Homo sapiens: one gene and its partner. The protein of the gene in region 1 interacts with the protein of each later gene in a pairwise test. Each region holds a gene or a part of one and is shown on either strand. Other genes may lie near its edges. The genes, in order: MKNK1 and EIF4G3.

Region 1 (4,024 bases):
TGAACTGCTCCTCTGGATGATGGAAAATGATGGAGCTCAGTCTGCAGATGCCTTGGTGGCATCAGGCGGCTCACTGGCTGGCCTTCCTGATCTGTATCTCATCCTTCCAGCCTCCTGCTCCAGTCCCATCACAGTCTGCTCTCTGCCATCCCCTCTGCTGTAACTAAGCCTCTCTGTTCTCTGCCATCTCCCCCTCCCCCAACCCTGGCCCCCACAGTGTGGCTCTGCAGAATACATGGCCCCTGAGGTAGTGGAGGTCTTCACGGACCAGGCCACATTCTACGACAAGCGCTGTGACCTGTGGAGCCTGGGCGTGGTCCTCTACATCATGCTGAGTGGCTACCCACCCTTCGTGGGTCACTGCGGGGCCGACTGTGGCTGGGACCGGGGCGAGGTCTGCAGGGTGTGCCAGGTGAGTGCGGCCCCAGGGAGCACTGCGTAGACCCTGCTAGGGGTCAGTGTGGTTGGGGGATGCCAAGCAGGACTGGGCTGGGAGAGCGTTCCTGATCGGGATGGGGGCTCATAGTGCCCTCTCCCGCTCCTGTCACGGTGGCCACAAGGTAAAATAGAGATAATCAGACACTCCGCCCAGCTGGGAGTTCAGGGCAGGATTGTTAGAAGATCATGCCTGAACTGACTCTTTTTTTTTTTTTTTTTTTTTTTTTGAGATGGAGTCTCTCTCTGTCGCCCAGGCTGGAGTGCAATGGCACGATCTCGACTCACTGCAACCTCTGCCTCCTGGGTTCAAGCGATTCTCCTGCCTTAGGCCTCCCAAGTAGCTGGGACTACAGGCGCCGGCCACCACGTCTGGCTAATTTTTTATATTTTCAGTAGAGACGGGGTTTCATCGTGTTAGCCAGGATGGTCTCAATCTCCTGACCTTGTGATCCTCCCGCCTCGGCCTCCCAAAGTGCTGGGATTACAGGCGTGAGCCACCGCGCCCAGCCCTGAACTGACTCTTAAAGGGTGCATCCTGCCCTGCGGAAGAGGGACAAGAATCACAAGTAGAAGGAACAGCACGGGCATAGATGTGGGCACATGAAATAGCTGGAGTGTCTAGGAAGGAAGAGTGGAGTAGTAGGTCGGTGGTAGTGGGAGATGAGGCCTGAGAGGTTCACAGAGAGTCCTCTAGGAAGAGCCAAGGAATTTGGGCTTTGTTCTATGGGTGATCTCCACTCATCACCCATCCAGCCCACCAAGGGCATAGCCATCCTGGCCTGCCAAGGGCATTCTATATAGTTTGATCATCTAGGGGACAGTGCGGGGTGAGTCTGGGAAGAGGCCCCAGTCTGTGGCATCCCCAAGCCATGAGCTGCAGCTACAGCTGAGATCAATTGAAGCCGGTTGATCAAAACAATGACAGGCACATCCTGCCCATCCCTGGCAGTGTGGCCTCAGGAGGAATCTTTTGTACCTAGAACAAGCTGTTTGAAAGCATCCAGGAAGGCAAGTATGAGTTTCCTGACAAGGACTGGGCACACATCTCCAGTGAAGCCAAAGACCTCATCTCCAAGCTCCTGGTGCGAGATGCAAAGCAGAGACTTAGCGCCGCCCAAGTTCTGCAGCACCCATGGGTGCAGGGGGTGAGTGACTCCAGGGAGGGGTGTTTTCCACCACTTCAGGCCTGTGGCATGGCCACAAGGAAGCTGTCATGCCAGCAAGTGCTGAGCACCAGCCTTGTGGCTGGTGCAGCTGAAGAGGACAGCGTCTATCCCTGAGTGTGTAGAGTGAATCGACTCCTCCTGTTACCCCAGACTGAGCCCCTTATAGGCCATAGAGTTGGCTGTAAACTTGGCCACAGACTAAGCCCCAACAGAGTCCTCTGGGGATTTGGTACATGCACCCAGCCCCGCAAGCATCCTATTGTCATTTGAAGTCTGTAGCATCCTCCTCTTATATAGAAGCATCATTAGCTGAGGACACCCAGAAGTGAGCAAGGCCGTGCTGCGCTGATTGTTGTGTGGCCGAGTTGGGGCACATAGGTTCTCCTCATGGTCTGGGAGTCTGGGTACAGCTGGCCTGAAAGGCAAATGATCGTATTTTTTCCCTAAGCTTAGAATTCATGTCTTCACTAGAAAACATTTTTAAAAATCCTCCTTGGCTACTCACAATACCTGACCTCTGCCCTCCAAGGGGTCTGCCAGATGCTCCCATGACTTTCTGGTCTCCTTGGTGTGCCAGGCTCTGGCCAGCCTCAGTGACCCTACCAGTGGAAGGAGGCAAGCATTGCCATCCTATGTTGCAGATGGGGACCCAGTTTGAGTGTCTAACTGGCTCATTCCCAGACCCATAAGTGAGCACCTGCCACATGCCAGAGGGACAAGTGAGACCCAGTCCCTGTCTCTGTGCTCTAGTGGAGAGAAGTAGACAAGGGGATAAGTTACAGCATGATAAAGGCTTCTGAAAAGTGCTAGGGGCACAAAGGGAGCAAGACCCCACTCCCCATCCCGGGCCTGAGACTGAGGCAGGAAGGTGGCAGGGAAGGGGAAATGTGCGTCACAGGGGAAGTGACCCTTGAGCTGGGTCCTGGGGGATGATTAGGACTTTGCCAGGCAAAGGGAAAGAGGGGCTCTCCATGCAGAAGCAGCTATGTTGGGGGCTGCGGCTGCAGATTGTACCTTTCTTGCTCTCTGCTTGGAAGGCCTGACCCTGCAAGCAAGCATAGCCATTTCCCTGTGCTGCGCCAGCAGCCTATAGTAACCTACCCACTGCTGGCTTGGGTGGGGCAGTTCTTGAAAGGAGGGAGCAGTGCTTTACCTACACATCTGTCCTTCCCATTCTAGCAAGCTCCAGAAAAGGGACTCCCCACGCCGCAAGTCCTCCAGAGGTAAATGCTCTGACCACCCCCACGCCATGCTCTTCCTCAAGCTCTCAGCCACCATGGGGGTGGGGGCCGGGGGAGCCCATCTCTAGGCTCAGGTAGCTTTCTCCAAAGGGGCTCCCTGCCCATTTCCCCTCCTCACTCTCTTTTCCTCTACTCTGGATCTATCTCCCACCCTTCCCTTCCTTCACCTAGATTGGATCCTCTGCCCTCCAGCACCTTAAGGCCCCTCCTAGCACTGTTGGCAGGAAAAAAAACCTGTTTTGCCCATTGAACTGTAACTTACAGCCCAAAGACAGACCTTACCCATGGGTTATTCACACAAGGCTTCCCTCTGCCCTTGTATTTAATGAAAGGAGCAGAAGTGAGGGGCACGTACGGTACTAGACGGACAGTGATAATAGTGGCCACCAGGATTAAGTCCTTACCATGGCCAGGCATGGTGGCAGGTGCTGTAATGCCAGCTACTTGGGAGGCTGAGGCAGGAGAATCGCTTGAATCCAGCAGACGGAGGTTGCAGTGAGCTGCGATCACGCCACTGCACTCCATCCTGGGCAACAGAGCAAGCATCTGTCTCAAAAAAAATAGTAAGTCCTTACCACATGTCAGACGTGGTGCTAAGGGCTGGATATAATTATATCCATAATCTTCACGATGAATTTAAGAGAGGTGTTCTAGATGAGAGAGGTGAGGAGTGGCAATCAAGTTAACTTGCTTAAGGCCACACAGCAGCCCTGGGCTGTTTGACTCTGGAGCCCTTTTACAGCTGGACTGCCCTGTTCCCAAAGAGCCAGGGCTAAGCAGTGTGGGAAACCTTTTTGGCACCAGCCTCATGGCCAGCTTTTAGGAGCTACACAAGGAAGTCATACACCTCCATAATCGCAATTCGTGTGACCCAGTTGCTATTGCCCAATTTGGGTTCCTACCTGACTCTCTAGAGCAGCCTCCAGATGCCTTTAGATGCCAAACCTCAGATCCGCCTTAGAAGATTTATTCTGCAAACCCAAAGTGCCTGTCCACGCTAGCCCTGAGCTAGGTGCTGGGGACGTGGCATAAGCGGCGCAGGCCTTGCTCTGGGAGCTTTTTCCCCACGCAGGCTGGGAGAGGGAGGGACAGGTGTGTTTCATGTGCCCAGTCTCTGCCTCTGGTAGACCTGTATGTAGAGTTGTGGGAGCTCAGAGGAGGGTGCTCTGAGGAGAAGGG
Region 2 (3,919 bases), about 26 Mb from region 1:
CAGGCCTAATAAAACTTTCCACAGTGATGGTAGTATATATCCATACCATTGAGTATGGTAATCATGAGCCACATGTGGCAATTCTATACTTAAATATGTCTGTTGTGACTTAGGAACTGAATTATTGACTTTAAATTTAAATAACCATGTTTGACTAATAGCTTCCATATTGGACAACACAGGTCTAGGGCATGAAAATGGTTAATGATGTTGAGGATGATACTCTAGAATCTTTAGACACCCAACAAAGACCCTAAGTGTAGTGTATTTACCATGCTATATTTACTAAGGAGTTTCAGAATAGTTTTTAGTTAAGGGTTATGATTAATTCTTGGCTAATGAAACAAAGTAACCTGTACACTTAAGTCTTAGTGATACTTGGTGTTAACTAATGATTTTTATTACATCTTGAAAATTCAGTTGGTATTTGTTAAAGCGGGCAGTACATAGCTATTAGAGAGAGCACTCAAGTAGTTCTTTGGTACTTCCTTATTTTCGCTTTTGTAAAATTCCTTCTTTCCTAGTCCTGAATCGCTCTTGGAGATAAAGGAAAAGATGAAAGCAAATTATCCTTATAGTGTAACTGAAGAGACAATCTACCATGAATCAGATAATTTGATAATATTAGCTTAACTAATATAATTACAAAGATAAGTCTTTTTAAAAAAAGGCCGAGGCATGCAGATCACCCGAGGTCAGGAGTTTGAGACCAGCCTGGCCAACATGGTGAAACCCCGTCTCTACTAAAACTACAAAATTAGCTGGGCGTGGTGGCGCATGCCTGTAATCCCAGCTACTTGGGAGGCTGAGGCAGGAGAATCACTTGAACCCATGAGGCGGTGGTTGCAATGAGCCGAGATCATGCCACTGCACTCCAGCCTGGGCAAAAAGAGCAAAACTCCATTTAAAAAAAAAAAAGTTAATACGACTCATGATAAACCTAATATTGATTAGCATTTATTGTTTATTCCACTGCCTCCCTCCATTAATATAAATGATCGGAGAGCTGACTATAATAACTATAAGCTAATAACTTATTATATATGATAACTATAATTCTCAGTTTTACTATGAGAGTAAAACCGAGAATTAAAATCACACGGATAGTTTGGACGTTTAAAACAGTAAATAACAGGTGTAGTTTCACTGGATAAAATCCAGATGAGATAGCTTTTACTCATGTTTTCCATGTGAATGATCACCTCTTGTTCTTTTTTGAGACGGACTCTCGCTCTGTCACCCAGGCTGGAGTGCAGTGATGCAATCTCAGCTCACTGCAAGCTCCGCCTGCCGGGTTCACGCCATTCTCCTGTCTCAGCCTCCCTAGTAGCTGAGACTACAGGCACCCGCCACCATGCCCGGCTAATTTTTTGTATGTTTAGTAGAGACGGGGTTTCACTGTGTTAGCCAGGATGGTCTCGATCTCCTGACCTCGTGATCCGCCTGTCTCGGCCTCCCAAAGTGCTAGGATTAAAGGTGTGAGCCACCGCGCCCGGCCACCTCTTCATTTTTAAAACAACATTACAAGGAATAAAAAGCATATCCTGCCTTTCTCCCTTCCCCCAAATTTTGTAAAAATAATACAGTAAACTTGCAGCGCAGAAAATAGTAAAAAGAAAGTAAAAAACTACTCGTATTTAAATTTTATAGGGTTTAGATTGAGATAAACATGATATGAAACAGCTTCACTGGTATCAGAAGATAGTTCAGATTGGGCCGGGCACGGTGGCTCACGCCTGTAATCCCAGCACTTTGGGAGGCCAAGATGAGCGGATCACCTGAGGTCAGGAGTTCGAGACCAGCCTGGCCAACATGGTGAAATCCCTTCTCTACTTAAAATACAAAAATTAGCTGACTGTGGTGGCCGGCGCCTGTAATCCCAGGTACTTGGGAGGCTGAGGCAGGAAAATTGCTTCAACCCAGGCAGGCGCCTGTAATCCCAGGTACTTGAGAGGCTGAGGCAGGAAAAATTGCTTAAACCCAGGCAGGCGCCTATAATCCCAGGTACTTAGGAGGCTGAGGCAGGAAAATTGCTTAAACCCAGGAGGTAGAGGTTGCAGTGAGCCAAGATCGCACCACTGCACTCCAGCCTGGGGACAGAACAAGATTGTCTCTCAAAAAAAAAAAAAAAAAAAAAAAAAACAGAAAAAAAGTTCAAATTGTACAAAATAATAGGAATAAAAAAGAATTTAGACTGCTTCAATCTTTTTTTCCTCTTCTTTAAACAAGTTGTTGGGCTGTTTATACTGTCAAGAGCAAGTATGGTGAATTGTCATTATTGCTTTTTTCTGGGGGAATTAATGCACATTTATTCAGTCATTCATTATTTTGAAATATATTCTTTTCCTCATAACTACAGTGTCCCAAAGCTTATAGTTTATTTTCACCTCCTTGCAGATTTGCTGCGGATGTTTTTTGATTGTCTATATGACGAGGAGGTGATCTCCGAGGATGCCTTCTACAAATGGGAGAGCAGCAAGGACCCTGCAGAGCAGAATGGGAAGGGCGTGGCTCTGAAATCTGTCACGGCATTCTTCACGTGGCTGCGGGAAGCAGAAGAGGAGTCTGAGGATAACTAAAACTTCAAATACACAAAATGAAACAAAAGAAACAATTTAAGTATTTTTTTAAAAAGTTTCACGTCTTCGCCAATCACAGTGCAGCAAGGCCAATTCTCGCAGAAACCCCCACGTGTGCACGAGTGGGAGAGGGGAAAGAGAAAAAAAGGTGATCATGGAGGAAAAAGGTACTGGATAAAAGTAAACTTCAAACCTTAGGGCGGGAGCACTAAAACCAAAATACATGTATTATTTATAGAAAATATTTTCTGTTTTAATCTTTTCTTTTTAAACAAGGACTCATACTTAAAAAAATGTTTAGCAAAAAAAAAAAAAGTTGAGAACTTTTAATTTATTTTAAGGACTGCAAATGCCAGTGTAATTTTTTAATTTGCAGTTTCTGTAAACAACTTGTATAATAGAAAAGCAGAGAAATAAATTTCCCTCCCCTTCAAGATGCACCTCATGTTTGTTTTAAGGTATAGCATTTAGTCCAGATTTGAGAAAGTTTGGGGTGAACAAGGTAAGAAAGATTTTTTTTTTTTTGGCATCAAATCTTTCTGCCTGCCTCTCAGCTTGCTTCAGAAAATTTAAAAAATCACAATAGTAATCAAAACATACATAACATTGAAACAGAAGGAAATGCTGTGGACCACAGAACTCCAAGAATTGTTTAAAAAAAAAAAAGTGCTACCCTGAGAAAAGTACTCTTAATACTCTTGAAATCTTTAGAGCAACTTTAAGGCTTGTAAATACATAGAACAAATATTTAAAAAAACAAAAAGAAATTGACTCAGTACTATTTCTTTTCACTTTGAAAATATAAAGAACAAAATAAAGACAAACATTGCAAGTTTAAAAGAAAGTAAAGTGACTTCTCCTTTGGACAGCTGCTGCATGTGTGCCCATTCCTGGGGGTGCTGTCTGGCTATTTATTGTCTAATTCAAATCACTCCTGAGGGGAGAGAGATAAAACGAGAGAGAGTGAGAGAGTGTGTGTATGTGCGTGTATGCGCACGTATGTGCATGCACATGTATGTATGTATATGTCTCTACTCACTGAAAAGGCAAGCTACTTTGTGGGTAAGGAGGGCACTTGTGCTTGGGTGGGAATGCCCCACTGGGAGTCCAGTGAAACTTGTTTCCAACACTAACTAAAAATGCATTCAGGACAGTAGGCCTCAAGGGCAGTCCTTTAGATAACTAAGTTTTCCACTCTGTGTATCAGGACTCAGGACAATAATTCACTTTGAGACTGCCACTACCACTGATTTTAAAATCTTCCATCAATTGCCTGCAATGCTTAAGAAACCCAAAGATGTCCTCTAAAGAATGAATAAAACCAAAAGCTATATTATGCT

What was found.
Region 2: the proteins of MKNK1 (region 1) and EIF4G3 interact in a two-hybrid assay, tested with the Homo sapiens proteins (one large-scale study listed by BioGRID and IntAct).

What each region holds. Positions count from the first base shown.
Region 1 is NC_000001.11:46,559,037-46,563,060, reverse strand, and holds part of MKNK1 (MAP kinase-interacting serine/threonine-protein kinase 1), read left to right. Parts: exon of another isoform or gene 1-210; intron 211-217; coding exon 218-412; intron 413-1,387; coding exon of another isoform or gene 1,388-1,418; coding exon 1,419-1,583; intron 1,584-2,783; coding exon 2,784-2,827; intron 2,828-3,249; exon of another isoform or gene 3,250-3,391; intron 3,392-4,024. UniProt on the Homo sapiens protein: May play a role in the response to environmental stress and cytokines. Appears to regulate translation by phosphorylating EIF4E, thus increasing the affinity of this protein for the 7-methylguanosine-containing mRNA cap.
Region 2 is NC_000001.11:20,805,979-20,809,897, reverse strand, and holds the end of EIF4G3 (eukaryotic translation initiation factor 4 gamma 3), read left to right. Parts: intron 1-2,397; coding exon 2,398-2,579; 3' UTR 2,580-3,419; downstream 3,420-3,919. UniProt on the Homo sapiens protein: Component of the protein complex eIF4F, which is involved in the recognition of the mRNA cap, ATP-dependent unwinding of 5'-terminal secondary structure and recruitment of mRNA to the ribosome. Functional homolog of EIF4G1.